Regions from separate parts of the Homo sapiens genome. Here all the other regions are linked to region 4. Evidence: fine-mapped expression QTL. A gene starts in region 4. Each other region holds a variant in brackets. All regions are shown on one strand. Distances are between the middles of the regions.

Evidence for each region. PIP is the estimated chance that this variant, and not a neighbour inherited with it, causes the effect. A credible set is the group of variants that fine-mapping cannot tell apart.
Region 1: its variant is the best candidate, but not a certain one, in a credible set for the expression of MOK in whole blood (TOPMed, PIP 0.54).
Region 2: its variant is the best candidate, but not a certain one, in a credible set for the expression of MOK in whole blood (TOPMed, PIP 0.62).
Region 3: its variant is the best candidate, but not a certain one, in a credible set for the expression of MOK in gastroesophageal junction (GTEx, PIP 0.56).

Annotation. Positions count from the first base shown.
Region 1 is chr14:102,252,816-102,258,200 of GRCh38, reverse strand. The region is part of intron 4 of MOK (MOK protein kinase); the gene reads left to right. Among named protein-coding and RNA genes, the nearest start is that of MOK, 50 kb to the left of the region's middle. The variant A/T (reference allele first, on the strand shown) is at 2,094.
Region 2 is chr14:102,228,810-102,233,809 of GRCh38, reverse strand. MOK (MOK protein kinase) reads left to right here. Exons shown (of 12, transcript NM_014226.3): 8 at 21-122; 9 at 1,102-1,275; 10 at 1,989-2,103; 11 at 4,153-4,353; 12 at 4,444-4,974. The coding sequence ends at 4,521. Among named protein-coding and RNA genes, the nearest start is that of MOK, 74 kb to the left of the region's middle. RefSeq lists an enhancer at 2,195-2,695. The variant G/A (reference allele first, on the strand shown) is at 2,113.
Region 3 is chr14:102,157,225-102,162,609 of GRCh38, reverse strand. All of the region lies in intron 1 of WDR20 (WD repeat domain 20), which reads right to left. Among named protein-coding and RNA genes, the nearest start is that of WDR20, 20 kb to the right of the region's middle. RefSeq lists enhancers at 3,263-3,763, 4,946-5,385. The variant AAACAG/G (reference allele first, on the strand shown) is at 2,451.
Region 4 is chr14:102,302,547-102,307,931 of GRCh38, reverse strand. MOK (MOK protein kinase) reads left to right here and starts at 2,768. Exons shown (of 12, transcript NM_014226.3): 1 at 2,768-2,970. The coding sequence starts at 2,964. RefSeq lists enhancers at 2,549-2,598, 2,365-2,887.

The sequences.
Region 1 (5,385 bases), 50 kb after region 4:
TGGGCTTTAAAGCAAGGGAGAGGTGGTTTTCAATTGGTGTTTAGACCAGTGTTTCCAAAACGATCACAGAAGACCAGTTGTTTTATTTCTAATATATTGCAGACCAGAATTTTTGTAAAATATAGTAAAAATGAATTACCAGAAAAGTGATCACGTGCTTAGATGTCACAGCATGTCAAATTGCTATAAGTGGTTCTAAACAGGTATTCTTTTTTTTTTTTTTTTGAGACAGAGTCTCACTCTGTTGGCAGGCTGGAGTGCAGTGGCGTGATCTCTGCTCACTGCGACCTCTGCCTCCCGGATTCAAGCAATTCTCCTGCCTCAGGCTCCCAAGTAGCTGGGACTACAGGTGCGTGCCACCACGCCCTGCTAATTTTTGTATTTTTAGTAGAGACGGGGTTTCACCATGTTGGCCAGGATGGTCTCGATCTCTTGACCTCGTGATCCGCCCACCTCAGCCTCCCAAAGTGCTGGGATTACAGGCGTGAGCCACTGCGCCCAGCCCTAAACAGTTATTCTTAATTTATGTCATCTCCTCTTAGACCAGTAACAGTCCCTGAACCATCATCAGCTCATGGACTGTGCTTTGAGTAGCATCTTTTTAGAAGGAATTCTCCAGTTGCTGTTTAAAGAATAAATGTGCTGTAGGTGGATGTGTTGGTTCTCCCTTTTAGTTGCAAATAACAGCCTCCCCTATTCTCTGATTAACTCAAGAGGGGTTACTCTGTGATATGGATAGATTGCCAGAATTGTTGGGAGGACTGAAGAAGCAGACTCTGGGCTTGGCCTATAGGAAGTTGCTTCTCACAACTCTGCTCTCCATGATCAGGCTGCTGGCCCTGCCGCTGACAACGCTCTGCAGAATAAAGCTGCTGCAGCTACCAGGCCTGGAATCATGCCTCTTCTGCCAGGATCAGGAGGCAGCCGTGATCCATGCCGTCAGAATAGATGCCTTCCCTCCTCTCATCTGCCCCCATACCTGGGCCAGAAGCATCTTTCCCAAGTGTTCCCATTTAGGCAGAGCCTAAGTCACATCTGGAACACTCAGCTGCAAGGCAGCATGAAGAATGTCATTTGGACGTTCAGGCCTGGCATGCTAGATGGGGGTTTGGGATAGGACCTGAGCAAGCCAATCTGCGGGTGTGCCATGAAGGCAAGAGTGGTGTGGGAGCCTGGGGAAGGGATGGCGAAGGCCCTTTGCCCGCCACTGTCTCTGGATGAATGTCTCTGAATTCTTTGGCGTGAGTTAGTAATTGGGGTGAATAGAGCATGGCTACCCGCCAGCGATCCTAGTTTGTGTATTTGGGCGCGTGTGCTTATGGCTCTGGGCTCATGCCATCTGCAGTAGGAAAGCCTGTCTTGGAATTTATGAAGGAAAAACCGTAAAGGAGGTTTAGTTTCCCTCATACTCTGACTATAGAGGCAGCTACTCTTTTACAAAATTGTATCTGATTCTGCTCTTTTTTTTTTTTTTTTAACTGTTTCAAGTTAAATTCATAGGGCCAGGTGCAGTGGCTCACGTGTGTAGTCCCAACACTTTGGGAGGCCAAGGCGGGAGGATTATTTGAGCACAGGAGTTTGAGACTAGCCTAAGACTCTGTCTGTACAAAAAAACAATTTTTTTTTTTTGAGACGGAGTCTCGCTCTGTTGCCCAGGCTGGAGTGCAGTGGCGATCTCAGCTCACTGCAAGCTCCGCCTCCCGGGTTCACGCCATTCTCCTGCCTCAGCCTCCCGAGTAGCTGGGACTACAGACACCCGCCACCACTAAATTAGCCTGGCTAATTTTTTTTTGTATTTTTAGTAGAGACGGGGTTTCACCGTGTTAGCCAGGATGGTCTCAATCTCCTGACCTCGTGATCCGCCTGCCTCAGCCTCCCAAAGTGCTGGGATTACAGGTGTAAGCCACCGTGCCCAGCCCAAAAAATTAAAAAAAAAAGCATCCGGGTGTGGTGGCACACGCCTGTAGACCCAACTACTCAGGAGGCTGAGGTGGGAGGATGGCTTGAGCCCAGGAGGTCGAGGCTGCAATGAGCTGATTGTACCACTGCACTCCAGCCTGGGCAACAGAGTGAGACCCTGTCTCAAAAAAAAA[A/T]AATAATAATAACTCATTTGCCTTAATGAATGGCTAGTTCGTAGTTCTCTCCACCCTCGCTGGAGGGGCGTGTGCTGGGGATGCCGTCATTCTGCAGGCTACAGTGGCAGCTGTATTCCTTCAGTTAGTGCTGAGTCACAGTGAATGCCTTGGTTTATCACTGTGTTCACTTAAGTTTTTAAAATTATTAGTATCATATATGACATTCCTTCTTAATGAGAATATTTGGTAAAAATTAACTTGTAAAAATTACCTTGGTCAGGATAGCTAGAGCAGATGAGGGAAATGCTTTTGGGGCCTGCTGGAATTCACTAAGGGGCATATAAGAAACTTCTGAGTAACTCGTTAATTGTACTCTATTTTACTTGTTTCAAACTGTTTGAAAACAAGAATCTGATGGGAACCAGATAGTCTTGGGCCCGGAAAGTTTGTTCTGGAGAAGCTTATGGAGAGTGGCTAGGCAGTGCTTTCCTTTGCAAGGGTGTGGTCTCCAGCACTTCAGACTACTGGGCCCACACTGTTGCTCTGATACCTCATGCCAGCAGTAACACCCCCAACTACTGGCCCGGGACCAGGACGGCTCCCTACCCCTAGGGCTGTGAATAGGGAGTTTCCAGGAGGAGACCCAGGGAGGCAAGGAAGGGTGGGCACCTGAAGAGGACTCTTACCTGGGACTGAAGGCATCTGAGAAGCACAGATTCCTGGCCCGCATGCCCGTTTGTGGCTCCATTAGGTCTAGGTTCAGGCCTTGAAATCTGCTTTTTTTTTAAATTTTATTTTATTGTTTTTTGAGACAGAGTCTCACTGTGTCACCCAGGCTGGAGTACAGTGGCACGATCTCAGCTCACTGCAAGCTCCGCCTCCCAGGTTCACACCATTCTCCTGCCTCAGCCTCCCAAGTAGCTGGGATTGAAGGCGCCTGCCGCCACGCCTGGCTAATTTTTTGTATTTTTATAGAGACGGGGCTTCACCGTGTTAGCCAGGATGGTCTCGATCTCCGGACCTCGTGATCCGCCTGCCTCAGCCTCCCAAAGTGCTGGGATTACAGGCTTTTTAATCAGCTTTTTAAAAGACTTCTAGGTGATTATGAAGATTGGATAGATTAGACTTTTCCTAAAAGATTCCACGTTTCCCAAGTTCAAGTTCAGATGACTCTAATGACAATTTTATGATACGAGTAAGATTTAAATGTGTGGACATGGCTGGGAAGGGCGTTCCTGGAATGGAACATCATGAATATAGGTACTAAGCAGGCGAGCTTTGGGAGCAACCAGAGAAGAGTCCATGAGGGAATTCACCTGAGCATTCGATAAACAAGAAGGGGGTGGTGGGGCATGGTTCTCGAAGCGAGGACCCAAGACTAGTAGCTGCACCTGGGGCTCTAGTTAGGCGACTGTGGGGCCCCATTGCAGACCTTCTGAATCAGACATGTGGGTGGAGATGGGGAGGGACAGTATGTGTCTTAGCAACCCACTCGTGGGAGTCTGAGAACCCTTTTGGTGGAGAGGAATTGGTTGAAGGGGGTCTTGAGTGCCGGGGTAAGTCGGGAGCAGTGAGACTGGGTTTGATCACAGGACCCAGGAGCACCTGATGAGATGAAATTCCAGCAGCTTCATTCTGCTGCGTGTGTGAAGGCAAATGGAAAGTTGCTTTCTTTTTATCTGTTATAGATATTAATTTAATAAGATTCCAGAATTATCAGCTTGGGAAAGCTGATAAAGGTCTTACTTTTGATTCTTTTGATTTTAATTCTGGAAAATTGATGATAAATCATGTGAAACAATAAAAAGATGATAGTATGACACAAAAAAGTTAATTGCGGCCAGGCGCAGTGGCTCAAGCCTGTAATCCCAGCACTTCGGGAGGCCGAGGCGGGCGGATCTCGAGGTCAGGAGTTCAAGACCAGCCTGGTCAACATAGTGAAACCCCGTCTCTACTGAAAATACAAAAAAATTATCAGGGTGTAGTGGTGGCGGGTGCCTGTAATTCCAACTACTCGAGAGGCTGAGGCAGGAGAATTGCTTGAACCTGGGAGGTGGAGGTTGCAGTGGGCGGAGATCGTACCAATGCATTCCAGCCTGGGCGACAGTGCTACACTTCGTCCCAAAAAAAAAAAGAAAAAGCTAATTGCACCTAGACATTTTACAATTTAAATTACTTTCTATTATTTATATATTCTTGTTAAGTAGAGAAAAAGAATAATTTTAATTTTTCAAAAGAAATTGTAAACTTAGGACCAAAAGTGTCAAATGGTATATGTGCTCATGGAGGGAGGAAGTGGATTTCCAAACTGTTAGGTGAACATGGTCATTGTGCAGATTTAAAACTTAATAACTTAAAACACACACTTTGAAAATTAAAATCAAGTAAAATTGACATCTTCTGGAACAGGGGTAAACTGTGATGCTGGGCATGTGGTATGACGTCTTCAAGCACGGTAGAAAGCTGCGGGCACCAAGGCACAGCCAGCCCAGGTGCTGAGTACAGGGCAGCTGCAGGGGACTGTGCCAGCCACGCTAAACGGCCTCTCCTGTGAAAGAAGACATGTGGACTGTGACTGAAAGCAGTTGAACTGCTTCTTGAACTGTGATCTGTCCCCCTTTAAAGTGGACATCTCCACATAAACAGGAAAGCCTAGTGGAACACTGGGTTGACGAGTGACTCCTAACATTTTCATAATCAGTGTAGGCTGAAGGACAGCGTCCTGGAAGGCCTCCGAGGCCGGCTGAGGCTGTCAGACCATGCTACTTGTGTGACGATTGCTCAGTGCTGTTCCCACTGAAACCATAGCACATGCGCTCTGAATGTTCACAGAGCTGACGCATGTGCTAATTGCCCCGATTTCATCCTTACACATTGTATGTATGGATCAAAATAACACTCTCTGGGTCCCATTAGTAGGTACAATTACTACATTTCCACTAAAAAGGAAAAAAATTATCAACAATTCTGTCATTCTTCAGTAACGTTTATTGTTTATTAATTTTTTAATTGGCAGTTTCCCAAACCTGCTTCACCTGTTTCAAAACTCAGAAAAACCACGTGTGCTAGAGCAGCAGCAGAGTCACTATGCAGCTGATAGAGCTGACTCGCCCGGGGCTTCCAAAACAGGCCCTTGCGGTGTCTCCACCATGTTTATAGATTTTGTTAAATTTGCAAAAATAAGATATTTCAACCACAAAGTTAAGACTGCCATCTCTTCTATTTTAACCTCTCCTATGTCATATTTCCCCTCTTAGCGTAACCGTGAAATAGCCGTGGACATGTCTGGAATCTTGTTAAGGGTTGGCTG
Region 2 (5,000 bases), 74 kb after region 4:
TGCCCCTTCTGCCCTTCCAGTCTGCAGCCCCTCTTTCCTGGAGTAAATGAACTGGACCAAATCTCAAAAATCCACGATGTCATCGGCACACCCGCTCAGAAGATCCTCACCAAGTTCAAACAGTAAGTATTGTGTTCTGAGAGTGGATGTGGACCCACTCCCCTGCTAGGACCTGCAGCAGGGCAAGCCCCTCCCTGTGCCTCCCTCAAACCCCTCTCAGGAGCTCCTTTGGCTGACTACAGGGGTTCAAGTTCACTTGAGGGCCAGTGAGTGGCTGCTCAGACAGAGCCCATCACTTTAAGTGGTCTCAAAGGTGAGCTCTTCCTTGAGCATCACAGAAAGATTTGTCACAGGCTTTCTGAGGGCTGGGGAGTCAGGCTGTGTTCCCTGAGTAATTTAAACAGGACTTAGAAGCCTTTGGGTGGAAACGTTCCCCAAGCACAGAGCATAGGTGGTGAGGGCTTTCTGCAGCCCTCCACAGCCCTGCTGGCGGGACCGACGCCTGGAAGAGGTGTTCCCGGACTCTTAGGGTCATTCTGGTGAAGCTGAGGCTGGGAGTTGGGACTTCCCAGGGAGGGCCTGTGGGCTGAGGGGCAAGTAGCACCCAGCGGCCCCCACATCCCAGGGAGGGAGAAGGTGGCAACCATTTTGGACTCTTCTTTTTTTGTTAAATTTTATTTCATTCTTCTCATGTGGGAAGGTGATATTAATCTTTTATAGGAAAGGTAGTTTTCTTACATTTTTAGCATAACAGATCCCCCCCTTTATAATAGACTATTTTTAAATAGATTTTTTTAAGAGCAGTTTTAGGTTTCCATAGAGCCCTGTCCCCATGTGCACACAGCCTCCCCTGTCGTCAGCACCTGCCTCGAGTGGTGTGTTTATTATGGTCGATGAACCGTGGATATCTCATTACTACACAGAGCCCATCATTTACATCAGGGGTCCCTCTTGGTGGTGCACGTTCTGTGGGCTGGGACAGGTGTAGACTCTGCAGTCATAAACCATTCCCCACCACACAGGGCCCTTAGTTGTGACAGTGGACCACCGGTGCGCTCAGTGACAGCATGACCATTTATTATCATTGGGTTTTTAATACAGGTCGAGAGCTATGAATTTTGATTTTCCTTTTAAAAAGGGATCAGGAATACCTCTACTAACAACCAATTTGTCCCCACAATGCCTCTCCCTCCTGCACGCAATGGTGGCCTATGATCCCGATGAGAGAATCGCCGCCCACCAGGCCCTGCAGCACCCCTACTTCCAAGAACAGAGGTAGGCACTCTCGTGGGTTCGGTGGGGCAGATGCAGGACCTGGCAAATGAGACCCATGGGCACATGGTGGGGCAAGGTACTGCCCCCTGGAGGGTCCCTGGTTCTTGGGAATCGCGCTCTCTATCCTGAAGAGTGGTCAGGGCCTCTTGGGGCCCACACCGTGCTGCCTTCTGGTGTATCCTCCCCAAAATGAGGATGTTAGCAGCTCCACGGCAGGAGAAAGAGGGGCTGGCTGTCCACTTTGCGGTTGATGCCAAGGCTACAGGTAGTAATCCTTCTAGAAGAGCCTGGTGTGCGGCCCTTGTAAATGGTGTGAACAGGATGCATTCTGAGATGGTAGAGCACTGTGGATGTCACCTGGCGCTGGAAGTACCTGCTGAATGTGAATCTAAGACCTGTCTGCCCTGAGGTCACCTAATTCCGGACCTCTGGACACTCCTGTTTGCCTAACTGTGGAGGTGACAGTTTGATCTGAAACTGCGAGTCCCTGGGTAGGCAGCGCTTCTGATTCATGGAGCCAGCTCTGTTCCTGGCCCAGAGACTGTCAGGCTGAGACAGAAAAGAAAAAAAAAGGCTCCTGATTACAGCTCAGGCAGAAAAGAAGAGCTAGTGACAACTCACACAGTAGACAAATTGGAGACAAAGAAGCCAGTAGGCCGTGTGCTCTGCGGGCTCTCAGTGGAGCTGCTCCATTCTCTTCTCCTTCCCCGTAGGAAAACAGAGAAGCGGGCTCTGGGCAGCCACAGAAAAGCTGGCTTTCCGGAGCACCCTGTGGCACCGGAACCACTCAGTAACAGCTGCCAGATTTCCAAGGAGGGCAGAAAGCAGGTACTAAGC[G/A]AAATCGGAGCCGGAGACTGCCTAGCTCAGCCGGGACTGGATGCCCTCGGGTGGCCTGTGTCTCTCTCAGGAGGACGCCACCTGTGGAGGCTGTGGCAGACCACATTGTCAGTCGAGGCCTGAACAGCATGCGAGTTGATGGCTCCATGTGTTGGGACATCAGGGACCCCAGTTCTATTTGCTCAAGCCCTTTCTGCCCCAGTAGCTAAGAATTGATGACGAATATCCCATGTGAGCAGGCCCAGAGAGGGGATGTTTGCATGAACTTTTGTGTCTGTCCTGATGACCATATGCAGGTGCCAGGTTCTATGCCAAAGCACCGTGCAGACATCGCCCCTCAGAACGGCCCTGGAGGGAGGCGCCAAGAAGATGCAATGCTGGCCCAAGTCACCCACCCAGCCAGTGACAGGTCTCAAGTCACTGTCTCTGCCTGGCTCCAGATGAGCACTTCGTCCCATCAGCAGAGGTTGTGCACATTTTCGGTTGAGAAATGCCAGCTTTGCCCCTCAGTGCCTTCACCTTCCCACCTACCGTGTGGCATCCTAGCCTGGTGCAGCCCTGTGTCACCTGCTGGCAGGGTCACACCAGTCTCCCAGTTCTGGGCTGGCACCCCAACAGTGTGACAGTGTGCCCTTCCATCATTCGTCTGTTCGGTCGTCCGTACGTCACTCGCTCCTCCCAGCCTTTACCGAGTGCTCCCTGACCGCTTGGGAGCTGGGAACCCAGAGCTGCAGTCAGGCTGCTCTCCAGAAAGCCAGGCTCCTGTGTCCCATTGGTCCCTGATTTGACAGCTCCACTTGAATGTCCGAAAGACAGACTTGCTGAAACCCCTTCTCCTGATCTTTCCCCAAACGTGCTTTTTCCCTGTGGCTTCCCATGGCCTTCCCTCCGAGGGAGGCAACTCCGTCAACTGCCCAGGCCCCCCGTGGACCCTTCCTTCATCCCACAGGGGCTTCGCCTTCTTGCCTCCTACATCCTCCTCACCTTGCCTAAGTCACCACAGATGGCCTCCTCACTACTGTCCCTGCTCTGCCTCCGCTCCCTCCTGGACAGAGGGTCTGCTTCAAACCCTTGATGTCACTCCTGGCCGGCATTCACCCAAGTCCCCACCCTCAGTCACATCCGAGGTCGGCATATTTTTCTCTAAGGGTCTGATAGGAAATATTTTAGGCCCCGTGGCCGTGGGGTGTTCGTTACACTCCCTGCTTTGCTGCAGTGTGAAAGGAGCTGGAGGCAACACATGAACCACATAGGGGCTGCGTTCCAGTAGAACTGGGGACACTAAAATTTGAATTTCACATAATTTTCACATGCCATGAAACATTTTTTTTTCAGTCATTAAAAATAAAAACCAGGTGGGTGCGGTGGCTCACACCTGTAAACCCAGTGCTTAGGGAGGCCAGGGTAGGATCACTTGAGGCCAGGAGTTTGAGACCAGCCTGGGCAACGTAGGCAAGACCACTGCCCCACCACCCCATCTGTTTTAAAAATTAGCTGGGTGTGGTGCGTGCCTTTGGTCCCAGCTACTTGGGAGGCTGAGGCAGGAGGATCGCCTGAGCCTAGGAAGCTGAGGCTACAGTGAGCCAAGATTGCACCACTGCACTCCAGTCTGTGCTACAGAGCAACAAACACCGTGTCTCAAAACAAACAAACAAACAAAAAACCCCAAATGTAAAACCATCCTTAGCTCACAAGCCACCCAAAACCAGGCGACAGGCAGATCAGGGTGTGAGACCTTGGAGCTAGAGCAGGAGGCAGGAGGCGTGGGCACCACAGCCCGCGAGCCCTTTGCCGCCCGCACTGCTCAGCTTGCAGTCGGCATTCTTCAGGTTCCCCCTGAAGGTTTGGCCTCCCCCGTGGGACTCTAGTGGGCAGCCACTCCCTTGGGGTGTCTGGGACCTGGTGGATGTGTCCCAGTCACATCTTATGGTCAAGAAATTGTATTAGGCAAAAGCAGTACAAAAGAGCCTCTTTCGTTTTTCCTAATTTCCATAAAGCAGAAAGCGTTTTATGTCCAACTGGCCTCTGTTCTGTTTCAAGAAACAGTCCCTAAAGCAAGAGGAGGACCGTCCCAAGAGACGAGGACCGGCCTATGTCATGGAACTGCCCAAACTAAAGCTTTCGGGAGTGGTCAGACTGTCGTCTTACTCCAGCCCCACGCTGCAGTCCGTGCTTGGATCTGGAACAAATGGAAGAGTGCCGGTGCTGAGACCCTTGAAGTGCATCCCTGCGAGCAAGAAGGTAGCGCGGAACCAGCTTCTCTGACGGCGCTGCTCTTCGACCCAGCCCAGGCCGCCACTGAATTTTGTGTCTGTAATTTTTCTTTGACAGACAGATCCGCAGAAGGACCTTAAGCCTGCCCCGCAGCAGTGTCGCCTGCCCACCATAGTGCGGAAAGGCGGAAGATAACTGAGCAGCACCGTCGTCTCGACTTCGGAGGCAACACCAAGCCCGACCGGGCCAGGCCTGGGTGATCTGCTGCTGAGACGCCACGGAGGGCTGGGGATGCGCCTGCGTCCGTTTCGCGCTGGCCGGGGCTCTGGGTGCTGCCCTGCGCCCTGCCGCACCCGCGGCCCGCGCAGCTGCCTAGGATGTTCTGGGCTAATATACTTGTAAAACCACCGCATTCTAGGGTTTTCTTTCATTTTCGTTAAGAATTTGGGGCAGGAAATACTTTGTAACTTTGTATATGAATCAAAACAAACGAGCAGGCATTTCTGTGATGTGTTGGGCGTGGTTGGAAGGTGGGTTCTGCGTGTCCCTTCCCAGCGCTGCTGGTCAGTCGTGGAGCGCCATCATGTCTTACCAGTGACGCTGCTGACACCCCTGACTTTTATTAAAGAATAAGCTGTCGTTACAGTATTGCATTTTAATGTTTTCCGAGTCCA
Region 3 (5,385 bases), 150 kb after region 4:
GAGAAAGAAAGAAAAAGAAAGAAAGAGAGAGAGAGAAAAAGAAAGAAAGATTATCTGATGTATTCAAGTGAGTCCTTGTTGGAGGACTATAATTTCAACAAATTAGTTCCAATTTTGTTCAACTTAAAAATGAACATAATGTGCCTACTACGTACAGGCACTTATTGATATGATCAATAAGATATGGTTTCTTCCCTCAAGATTCACAGTCCAGTAGGGTAAACAGAGATTCAAACAAAAAATTCCAATATTGTGTGAAAAGGTGGCAGCTCAATCATAGTAGTCAAACAGCAAGGGCAAAGGAAAGACAGGTTTAAACCACGAAACAGTACAATGCAGTCAAAGGTGCACTCAATGTGCCAATTCCAGTGTGTTGTATTCCCTGCTGTACCGGTTCTCCTATGAGCTTGTCTCGAGAAAAGAACTATGTCTATTACATCTGGGTCCCAAAACCTAGACCAGTGCAAGACCTCAGTGTAGTTTGCATTTCTTACTCGCTTATCCAATATCTACTTACAGATCATTCTCCTATCTACTATCTCATACCCCAACTCCAAAGTAGTCTCCAGAGCAATCAAGTTGTTGGGTAATCCAATCTCTTTGCTAAAGGTATGGGTTAGTAAAGACTGGGTTAACCAGTGCGTATTTCCTTGGCCGCAGGAATGGGCTGGTTAATCCAATTTGGAACAACAAGTCAAAGAAGGAGGTTTGGTAAAGGCTTCTATAAAATAAGCTTCCTTATTTTTATGACAGCCTGATTAGAAGAGCTGTTCATTCTCATCCTGGATATTAGCTCTCATTTTGGTCTATGTGGTACGGTGATGTGAAGCCTAACATTTCCACCACTGTTTTGCCACCTAAACCGGGCTGAAACACGGTAGAAAGCAGAACCAATGGAATCTCAGCAAAACGGAGCTGGCATCCCAATCAAACCATGCCTGAAGCCCACTGTACCTGTGGAATTTTCAGTGACATACACCAATACACCCCTTTAAAATTTAAACAGTTTGAATGGGTTTCCTGTTACTTGTAAACCACAACATTCCTAAGTATGCTAAATGCTAAAACACACTAGTGAACCCAGCATGGGCAATATGGCGAAACCCTGTCTATACAAAAAACACAAAAATTAAACGAGCACAGTGGCTCGAGCCTGTAGTCCCAGCTACTCAGGAGGCTGAGGTCAAAGAGTTGCTTGAGACCAGGAGGCTGAAGCTACAGTAAGCCATGATCGCACCGCTGCACTCCAGCCTGGGTGACAGAGAGAGATCCTGTCTTAAAAAAAAAAAAAAATAGCTGAGCATGGTGCTAGGCACCTGTAATTCCAGCTACTTGGGAGGCTGAGGCAGGAGGACTGCTTGAACCCGGGAGGCGGAGGTTGCAGTGAGCCAAGATTGTGCCACGGCACTCTAGCCTGGGCGACTGAGTGAGACTCTGCCTCAAAAAAAAAAAAAAAAAAAAAAAAAATATATATATATATATATATATGCAGTTATGCTTTGACCCAGTGTATCCACTGGAAATTTATCATACATGTGAGGTTAAATTTATCATACATGTGGAAATTTATCATACATGTGAGGAAATGATCCTCCTCTGGAAATTTATCATACATGTGAGGTTATTCACTGCAGCATTATTCTTTTTTTTTTTTTTTTTTTTGAGACAGAGTCTTGCCCTGTCACCCAGGCTGGAATGCAGTGGCGCGATCTCGGCTCACTGCAAGCTCCACTCGCTGGGTTCACGCCATTCTCCTGCCTCAGCCTCCCAAGTAGCTGGGAATACAGGTGCCTGCCACTACACCTGGCTAATTTTTTTTTTTTATATATTTAGTAGAGACGGGGTTTCACCGTGTTAGCCAGGATGGTCTTGATCTCCTGACCTTGTGATCCACCTGCCTCAGCCTCCCAAAGTGCTGGGATTATGGGCGTGAGCCACCGCGCCCGGCCATTATTCATATTTTTTAAAGGGATCATCAATCAATCAAGAGTGATGTCGTCAAATAAATTATGGTACATCCACAGCATGGAGTACAAAGCAATGACAAGAAAGAGTGAAGCTCTCTTTTACTAAAATGGAAAGATCTCCAATATAGATCATTAAGCAGAAAAAACAAGATGTAAAATACCATACACAGTATGTTCCCTCAATTCCTTCCCATCTCTGCTCAAATGTTGTCTTATTCGTGTAACAACAAAAGAATAAGTCAAAAACAAATAAAATATTATCTATAGTTAGAGGAAGGGAGCTAGGAGGGGGAAGGAGGACAGGACTAGAAGACAGACCTCTCTGAATATAACCTTGTTCTATATGCTGCAACCATGTAAATGTTCTGCATAACTGAAATATAAAATTAAATTTTAAAACCAATCTCTCCTGTTCTAAAACTAGACTACAGTGATAATTGTACAACTCAATAAATTACTAAAAATCATTCAATTGTACACTTA[AAACAG/G]ATAGCAAGAAGAAATAATTTGAGCGCATTCAAGTTTTTTGTTTGTTTTTAGAGACAGGGTTTCGCTCTGTTACTCAGGGTGGAGTGCAGTGGTATGATCATAGCTCACTGAAGCGTTGAATTCCTGGGCTTAAGCCATCCTATCGCCTCAGCCTCCCAAGTAGCAGGACTACAGATGTGTACCACCATGCCTGGCTAGTTTTTAAATTTTTTGTAAAGACAGGGTCTCACAATGTTGCCCAGGCTGGTCTCAAATTCCTGGTCTTAAGTGATCCTCCCACCTCAGCCTCCCAAAACTGGATCAAGGTTTTTATTTTTTTGGAGACAGGCTCTTCCTCTGTTGCCTAGGCTGGAGTGCAGTGGCTTGATCTCGGTTCACTACAACCTCTGTCTCCCCAGCTCAAATGATCCTCCCACCTCAGCTTTCCAAGTAGCTGGGACTACAGGCACAGGTCACCACTCCTCGTTGATCTTTTCAAAAAATTTTAATAGAGATGAGGTCTGTTTTGCCCAGGCTGGTCTGGAACTCCTGAGATAAAGCAATCTGCCCACCTCAGCCTCCCAAAGTGTTGGGATTACCGGCGTGCGCCACCGCACCCAGCTGGATTAAGTTTTAAGAGGCGGTGAAACAATCAAAGAAAGCTAGTAAAGACCAGTGCCTCTTCAACTTTAGTGTGTACCTGAAACACTTGAGGATTGTCTTAGAATGCAGATTTAATTCAGTAAATGGGGCCAATATTCTGCACTTCCAACAGGCTCCCAGGTGACCGCTGATGATGCTGATGTAGCTCTGTGGATCACACTTTGAGGGCTGAGACAATTTAAACAACTAGAGGTGCTTTGCTCTAAGAAGTAGCTGAGAAATGGGCCAGCAGCAACTGGAGGCACATGACCCATAGAAAATGAGTGGGTGGGCTGGGTGCGGTGGCTCATGCCTGTCATCCCAGCACTTTGGGAGGATGAAGCAGGACCACTGGAGCCCAGGAGTTCAAGACCAGCCTGGGTAACATAGTGAGACTCCATCTCTACAAAAAATGTAAAAATTAGCCAGGGGTGTGGTGGTGCACCCTTTTAGTCCCAGCTACTTGGGAGTGTGAGGTGGGAGGATCGCTTGAGGCCAGGAGTTAAAGGTTGCGGTGAGCTTTGATCACATTACTACACTACAGTCTGGGTGACTGAGAGAGACCCTGCCTTAAAAAAAAAGAAAGAAAATGAGTGGGTGTCAGAAAGAGTCTCTCCCCCTGACAACTGTTTTAAAATGAGAGAAACAGCGACACGTTTGTAGGAAACAGAGAATACCGATTAGCCAAAATGAGGTGGGATTTAGCGAACGAGTCGGGGAGGTGACTTTAGACAGGGGCAGAGCTCTTCCTTAAAAATAGAAGGGAAGGCATCCGGTACAGACAGAAGCTGAGATGTGAGGGTAGAAATCTGGAGAAATTCTCTTTTGACTGTTTAATTGTTCTAAGTGAAATAAGAAGTACAGTCATCAACTAAGAATAAGGATAGGGAAGTAGGTTATTGAAGATCTGAGGACAAAGTTGTAAAATTGTCATCTAGGCTGGGCACAGTGGCTAATGCCTGTAATCTCAACACTTTGGGAGGCCAAGGTGGGCGGATCATAAGGTCAGGAGTTTGAGACCAGCCTGACCAACATGGTGAAACCCCGTCTCTATTTAAAATACAAAAATTAGCCAGGCGTGGTGGTACATGCCTGTAATCTCAGCTACTCAGGAGGCTGAGGCAGGGGAATCGCTTGAACCCAGGAGGCAGAGGTTGCAGTGAGCCAAGATCACGCCATTGCACTCCAGCCTGGGCAACAAGAGTGAGACTCCATCTTAAAAAAAAAAATTGTCATCTAGAAGGGTGGGGTCAGTGTGGTGCAACTGCTTGTCAGCACCATGCACCCCTCCAAGGTGATGGTTCTGAATCTTAGGGGAGTGTAGGCAGCACAGATGTGCTATCCTTCAACCACATGCAGGGCACACGTGCAGATGTGCAGTAGGCAGAGGATTCACTTTAGCCAAGACTGGGATCGAGTGTGTATACGAGGGGCGTTATAATGATTGCTCACTGCACTGGAACAGGGGTAATGCTTGAGACAGTGGCAGTGAGGCAGGGGCTGAAAACATTGAGAAAGGAAGGGAAGCGATAGCACCCCGAGACAGCACTGATACAATCTGATGACTTCAGCCCTAAAGGAGGACAATACACTAATGTAGTACATTACTTTGGAACTAGCACCAAAAGAAAATACATTTTAAGACACACTTTTTAAATCATACTAAGAATTCTAAAAGAGGCCAACATTTAAATGACCACCACTAAGGAAGATAATCCTACCCTCCCCAAGCCTTGCACAAGCTTCAGCCCTCACACTGCAGCTCACACTCCCAGAAGGAGCCAGCAGCTGCCACATCCTTAGGCCTTGAACTTCTAGTTCTCTTGGTTTAGAATCCCCTCCCCTTTCAGCTGACCCACCATCTGAATTCAAATGACACCTTATTAAATCTTCTCTAAAGTTCCTGCTGCAATTGAGACAAATATTACACTGTCATCACCTACTATCTGAACCAAATGGAACAGAGTCCACCTTGTGGAGTGGTTCTTGTATTCTGCCCTCTAGTTAGGGCAGCAAGAATGATCAGGAAGAAGAAAAATGAAGCAAAAAGCATGGCCAGCTTAGAATTCTAGATGAGCAACTGCTGAGTGAAAGTACCACAAGAGAGCTCTTCATGGAGCTAAAAGTTACACTTCACAGGACATAAGAAACTAGTCACCCTTCTTATATTCAATCACACATGAGATACTAAAGAAGTTAAGGGAAGACTTACCTAAATCAGGGTGCTTAAACTTTCTGTGCCATGGACTCCTTACAACTGTTTTTTGTTGTTTTAGAGACAGGGTTTCTGTTGCCCAGGCTGGAGTGC
Region 4 (5,385 bases):
CTCTACAACGTCACTTCTGAGAACCACTTGTCCACAATGAAGGGAAGAAGAAAATCCATCAGCACCTGGTGAATTGGGAAACAATGGGGCTCTCACTTGCTAAATGCATTCACCTGTTCACTTATTTAATACACTCTGCCCTGCAGGGTAGAGAAAAGACACATGAGGGGCCCAAGGAACTTAGAACCCACCTGGTTAGAAGAAACTAACAAGCAAGAGACAGGGTTAGAAATATAAATGTGACATAAGGGCAAGCCCCCAAATAAGAAAGAACACAAGAAGAGAAGAAGGGATAGATCAAATCCTAGTGGTCTGGAGAGATTAGATGTGGCTTCTCAAAGCCAACAAAGATAGCACCACCAACAATAATACACCAGCAATAATCGCTATTTATTTTTTCAACTTTTTTATTGAGAGAAAATTTACATAAAATTCACCATTGTAACCATTTATTTATTTATTATTTTTTGAGATGGAGTCTTGCTCTGTCGCCCAGACTGGAGTGTAGTGGCAGGATCTCGACTCACTGTAGCCTCCACCTCCTGGGTTCAAGTGATTCTCCCGCCTCAGCCTCCTGAGTAGCTGGGATTACAGGAGCGCATCACCACACCTGGCTAATTTTTGTATTTTTAGTAGTGACAGGGTTTCACCATGTTGGTTGGCCAGCTGGTCTCGAATTCCTGACCTCAGTTGGTCCATCCTCCTCGGCCTCCCAAAGTGCTGGGATTATAGGTGTGAGCCACCACGCCTGGCTTGTTTTGTATTTTATTTATGTATTTGCTTTTTTAGACGGAGTCTCACTCTGTCGCCCAGGCTGGAGTGCAGTGGCGCAATCTCGGCTCACTGCAACCTCCGCCTCCCGGGTTCAAGCAATTCTCTGCCTCAGCCTCCCGAGTAGCTGGGATTACAGGTGCCTGCCACCACACCCGGCTCATTTTTCTATTTTCAGTAGAGATGGGGTTTCACCATCTTGGCCAGGCTAGTCTTGAACTCCTGACCTGGGGATCCACCCGCCTTGGCCTCCCAAAGTGCTGGGATTACAGGCATCAGCCACTGTGCCCAGCCGTTTTGTATTTTTTTAGTAGAGACGGGGTTTCCCCCATGTTGGCCAGGCTGGTCTCGAACTCCTGGACTCAAGTGATCTGCCTGCCTCGGCCGCCCAACGTGCTGGGATTGCAGGTGTGAGCCACCGCGACCGGCCGCTTTCTCTTTCTTTCGAGACAAGGTCTTGCTTTGTCACCCAGGCTAGAGTGCAGTGGTGCTATCATAGCTCACTGAGCCTAGAACTCCTGGTCTCAAGATACCTCCGCCTTATTCTCCTGAATAGCTGGGTTTACAGGCATGTGCCACCGTGCCCGGCTTTTTTTTTTTTTTTTTTTTTTTTTTGAGTCTCTTGCTCTGTCGCCCAGGCTGCAGTGCAGGTGGTGCAATCTCGGCTCACTGCAAGCTCCGCCTCCAGGGTTCACGCCATTCTCCTGCCTCAGCCCCCGGAGTAGCTGGAACTATAGCGCCCGCCACTACGCCCGGCTAATTTTTTTTGTATTTTTAGTAGAGATGGGGTTTCACCGTGTTAGCCAGGATGGTCTCGATTTCCTGACCTCGTGATCTGCCCGCCTTGGCCTCCCAAAGTGCTGGGATTACAGGCGTGAGCCACCACGCCCGGAGTTTTTTTTTTTTTTTTTTTAAGAGGGAAGTGGGGTTTCTCTATGTTGCCCAGGCTGGTCTTGAATTTCTGGCCTCAAGCGATCCTCTTGCCTCGGCCTTCCAAAGTGCTGGGATTACAGGTGTGAGCCACCACACCTGGCCAATTCAGTCTTAAACCAATTTTCTGAGGCTTCGTTTTGGCAAGGCTACTTATCTGTTTTAAAAATAAACGATGTATTTTAGTAAAAGAAAAAAAATGGAGGAAAAAACAGGGTTTTGATCTCATGGAATAATTATGAGGCTAATCTAATGAGCTTCATAAAATACTATACCCATACATAGTATGCTTGTTATTTTATTGTTTTGTCAGGGTCCAGAGAACTAGGCCACTGTGTTGCTTAGGCACCGTGTCTGCACATAGTTCATTCCGGTGTACATTCATTCATCTTTACACTAGAATGTTAGTTTCAAGAACTCAGTCACCTCGTCTACACTGTCCTTTAATCCCCAATACCTGCGACAGTTCCTGGGGCAAAAACAAATGCTTGTTGAATTAAAAAGAAAAACTGGGCCGGGCGTGGTGGCTCACGCCTGTAATCCCAGCACTTCGGGAGGCCGAGGCAGGCGGATCACCTGAGGTCAGGAGTTCGAGACCAGCCTAACATGGTGAAACCCCGTCTCTACTAAAAATACAAAAACATTAGCCGGGTGTAGTGGTGGGTGCCTGTAATCCCAGCTACTTGGGAGGCTGAGGCAGGAGAATCGCTTGAAGCCGGGAGGCGGAGGTTGCAGTGAGCCGAGATCACGCCATTGCACCCCAACCTGGGTAACAGAGCGACACTCTGTCTCAAAAAAAAAAAAAAATTCCTGTAGAAGCTCCCAAGCCCAATTAAAGCTCAAGGCTATCGTCCACGTAGTGGGTTCCAAATCGCTAAGTTCCCAGGCCAGCAGGGAGAGCGAGCCGAGCGAAGGTCGCCTGTGTCAAAGGCGGGGATTTGCACAGTATTTACATGGAAGCGGAGGAAAGGCTGCTTAGCAACCGGGCTGAGGGGACGGGCTGCACTGCGCACGCGTACATGGGCGGGGCATCTTGCGCATGCGCAGGCGACAGCTCATGGCGTTCAGGGCCTGACGGTTGCTAGGGTGACAGGGACACAACATGGCGGCGGGATCTCTAACGCTCTCCTTCGAGGGACCACCACGGAGATCCTAGTGCGGGACCCCGCCTCAGGGAAGTGGAAAGCAGGGGGACAACCTTCCTGCTTCTTTCTTTTCCGTCCAGTGTCGGCAAGGGGTTGTCACCGGCTTCCGCATCCAAGATGAAGAGTGAGTGGGGCCGGGGAAAGGGGCAGGGACTGGAGAGCGAGTGGCGGGGGAGGGAGGGACTGGGGGAGCTTGAGGAGCTTGAGGGGCCTGTGGGGCCGGGCGTCGTCGCCTTCTGCCGTGGCTCGACAGGCCCGGGAGGCTCCGCATGTGGGCCCCGAATCCCCCTCGGCTGTGAGAAGCCGGTGCCCCTGGGGGAAGCTTGAGGGGTTGGGGCTAGGTTGGGAACTTTGGGGTCTCGGAGAGCCGACTCGAGTTCCCGCTCAGGCATATTTTGGTGCAGGTGCGTGGTTCTTACATTGGAGTTTAGGGAGTTGACTGTGATTCATTTTATTTTATTTTAAATGCTGGCTTGAACCTGACACTCTTTTCCTGAACATTCGGCAGAAAACGGGGGAGCGCTTACAGCGTGGCTCCCTGCCTTTTCATGATACTGGTTTAGTGACCAATTGAGAGGAAAGCTGGGCTGTGTGCTTTATTTTATTTTTTGGGTCAAGCAGTAGTGTTTTATAGGAACCACTTTTTAATAGTAGTTTTGAAGCAACCTTTTAGTTAAAAGCTGTTACTTCAAAGTTGGGAAATGAGGTAGTCATTCTAGAAAATGTAACGGGTAAAAAATTTTCTTTAGTGGGATTTGTGGATTATTGACAATCCAAGTGCAACCAGCTAGAATGATGTTTTTAAAATTATTATTACTGTACAGATATAATTGTTTATGGTTGTGAACCAGAGGTGCAGTAAAAATTCAGACCTTTGCTGTGAAAATATTATGTTAGGAGTAGTTATAATGTTAAATTTGCATTGTATCCTAATTGTCAATGGTGTACATTGCATAACATTTAAAATAATTAATCTCATTCACCCTTTACAAGGCATTTTTATTTTTATTTTATTTTGTTGGATATTGTTTAATGTTTACCTTTTTCATTAATGCACTACAAAGCTGTAGTTAGAATCCAAGGTCTACAAAAGACTTTACACTTTTACTTACAGTGCAGACTATGATACTGCACATATTTTGTACTATATTCATTTTTTTCTTCCCATCTGTTTGTTTTGAAAATTTTCAGATGTACAGGAAAGTTGCAAGAGCAGTACATTGAATATTTATAAACCCGTCCTTCACTTAGCTGCACCATTTTGCCTTATTTTTGTGTGCTCGCTTTCGCTCTGGTGTTTTCTCTCTCCCATTTATGTATTTATTTTCACTGGACCTTTCAAGAGTTAGTTGTAGACTACTAATAATTCACCACTTCTTTCAGCAGTTATCTGCCAAGAACAAGGACATTCTCCTACATCATCACAGTACAAATAACACATTTAGAAAATTTAACAATGATACAATACTCTGATACACAGTCCATATTTCAGTTTTTCCATTTATCCCAATAACATGTGTTATAGTTGTTTATATTTTTTCTATCCAATCAAGAATCACCAATTGTATTCTGTTGTCATATCTCTTTGGTCTCTTTTAATATGGTGTCCCTGCCTTTTGTGTCTTTCATGACAATGATATTTTCATTTTTATTTGGCTGTCCTCTGTAGGCCAAATGACATTTTTAAAGAATCCAGCCCAGTGTTTTGCAGAATATCGCTCAATTTGGATTTGTCTGATTTTCGCCTCATGATTAGCTTCAGCTTAAATGTTTTTACCAGGAATATGTGAGAGGCAACGTTGTGTCTCTGTCAGTGTGGCCCTTCCAGAGTGCCTGATGTCAGTTCGTTGCAGTTTTGCTGAAGTTAGATTTGATCATTTGGTTTATTTATCTACCTTCTTTTTCTCTTAGACTCTTTTTTTTTTTGGACAGGGTCTCTCTGTGTCACCCTGGCTGGAGTGCAGTGGTGCAATCTTGGCTCACTGCAACCTCTGCCTCCCGGGTTCAAGTGATTCTCCTACCTCAGCCTCCCAAGTAGCTGAGATTACAGGTGTGCACCACCACGCCCAGCTAACTTGTATTTTTTGGTAGAGACGGGGTTTCAACATGTTGGCCAGGCTGGTCTCAAACTCCTGACGTCAAGCGATCCACCCGCCTCAGCCTCCCAAAGTGTTGGAATTACAGACGCGAGCCACTGTGCCTGGCCTTCCTCTTAGACTCTTCATACCCCACTACCTAGAGGCATCACTTTCAGTAATTTACTCTCTCTATATATATTATATATAAATATATAAATGTGTATTTCTCCCTTTTTAAAAGACTAATGTTAGCACTGCATGTGTATACCTATATAGAAATATGTACATATGCTGCCTGGGCGCAGTGGCTCACACCTGTAATGCCAACACTTTGGGAGGCCGAGGCGGGCAGATCACGAGTTCAGGAGATCAATACCATCCCAGCTAACACGGTGAAACCCCGGCTCTACTAAAAATACAAAAAATTAGCCAGGCGTGGTGGTGGGCACCTGTAGTCCCAG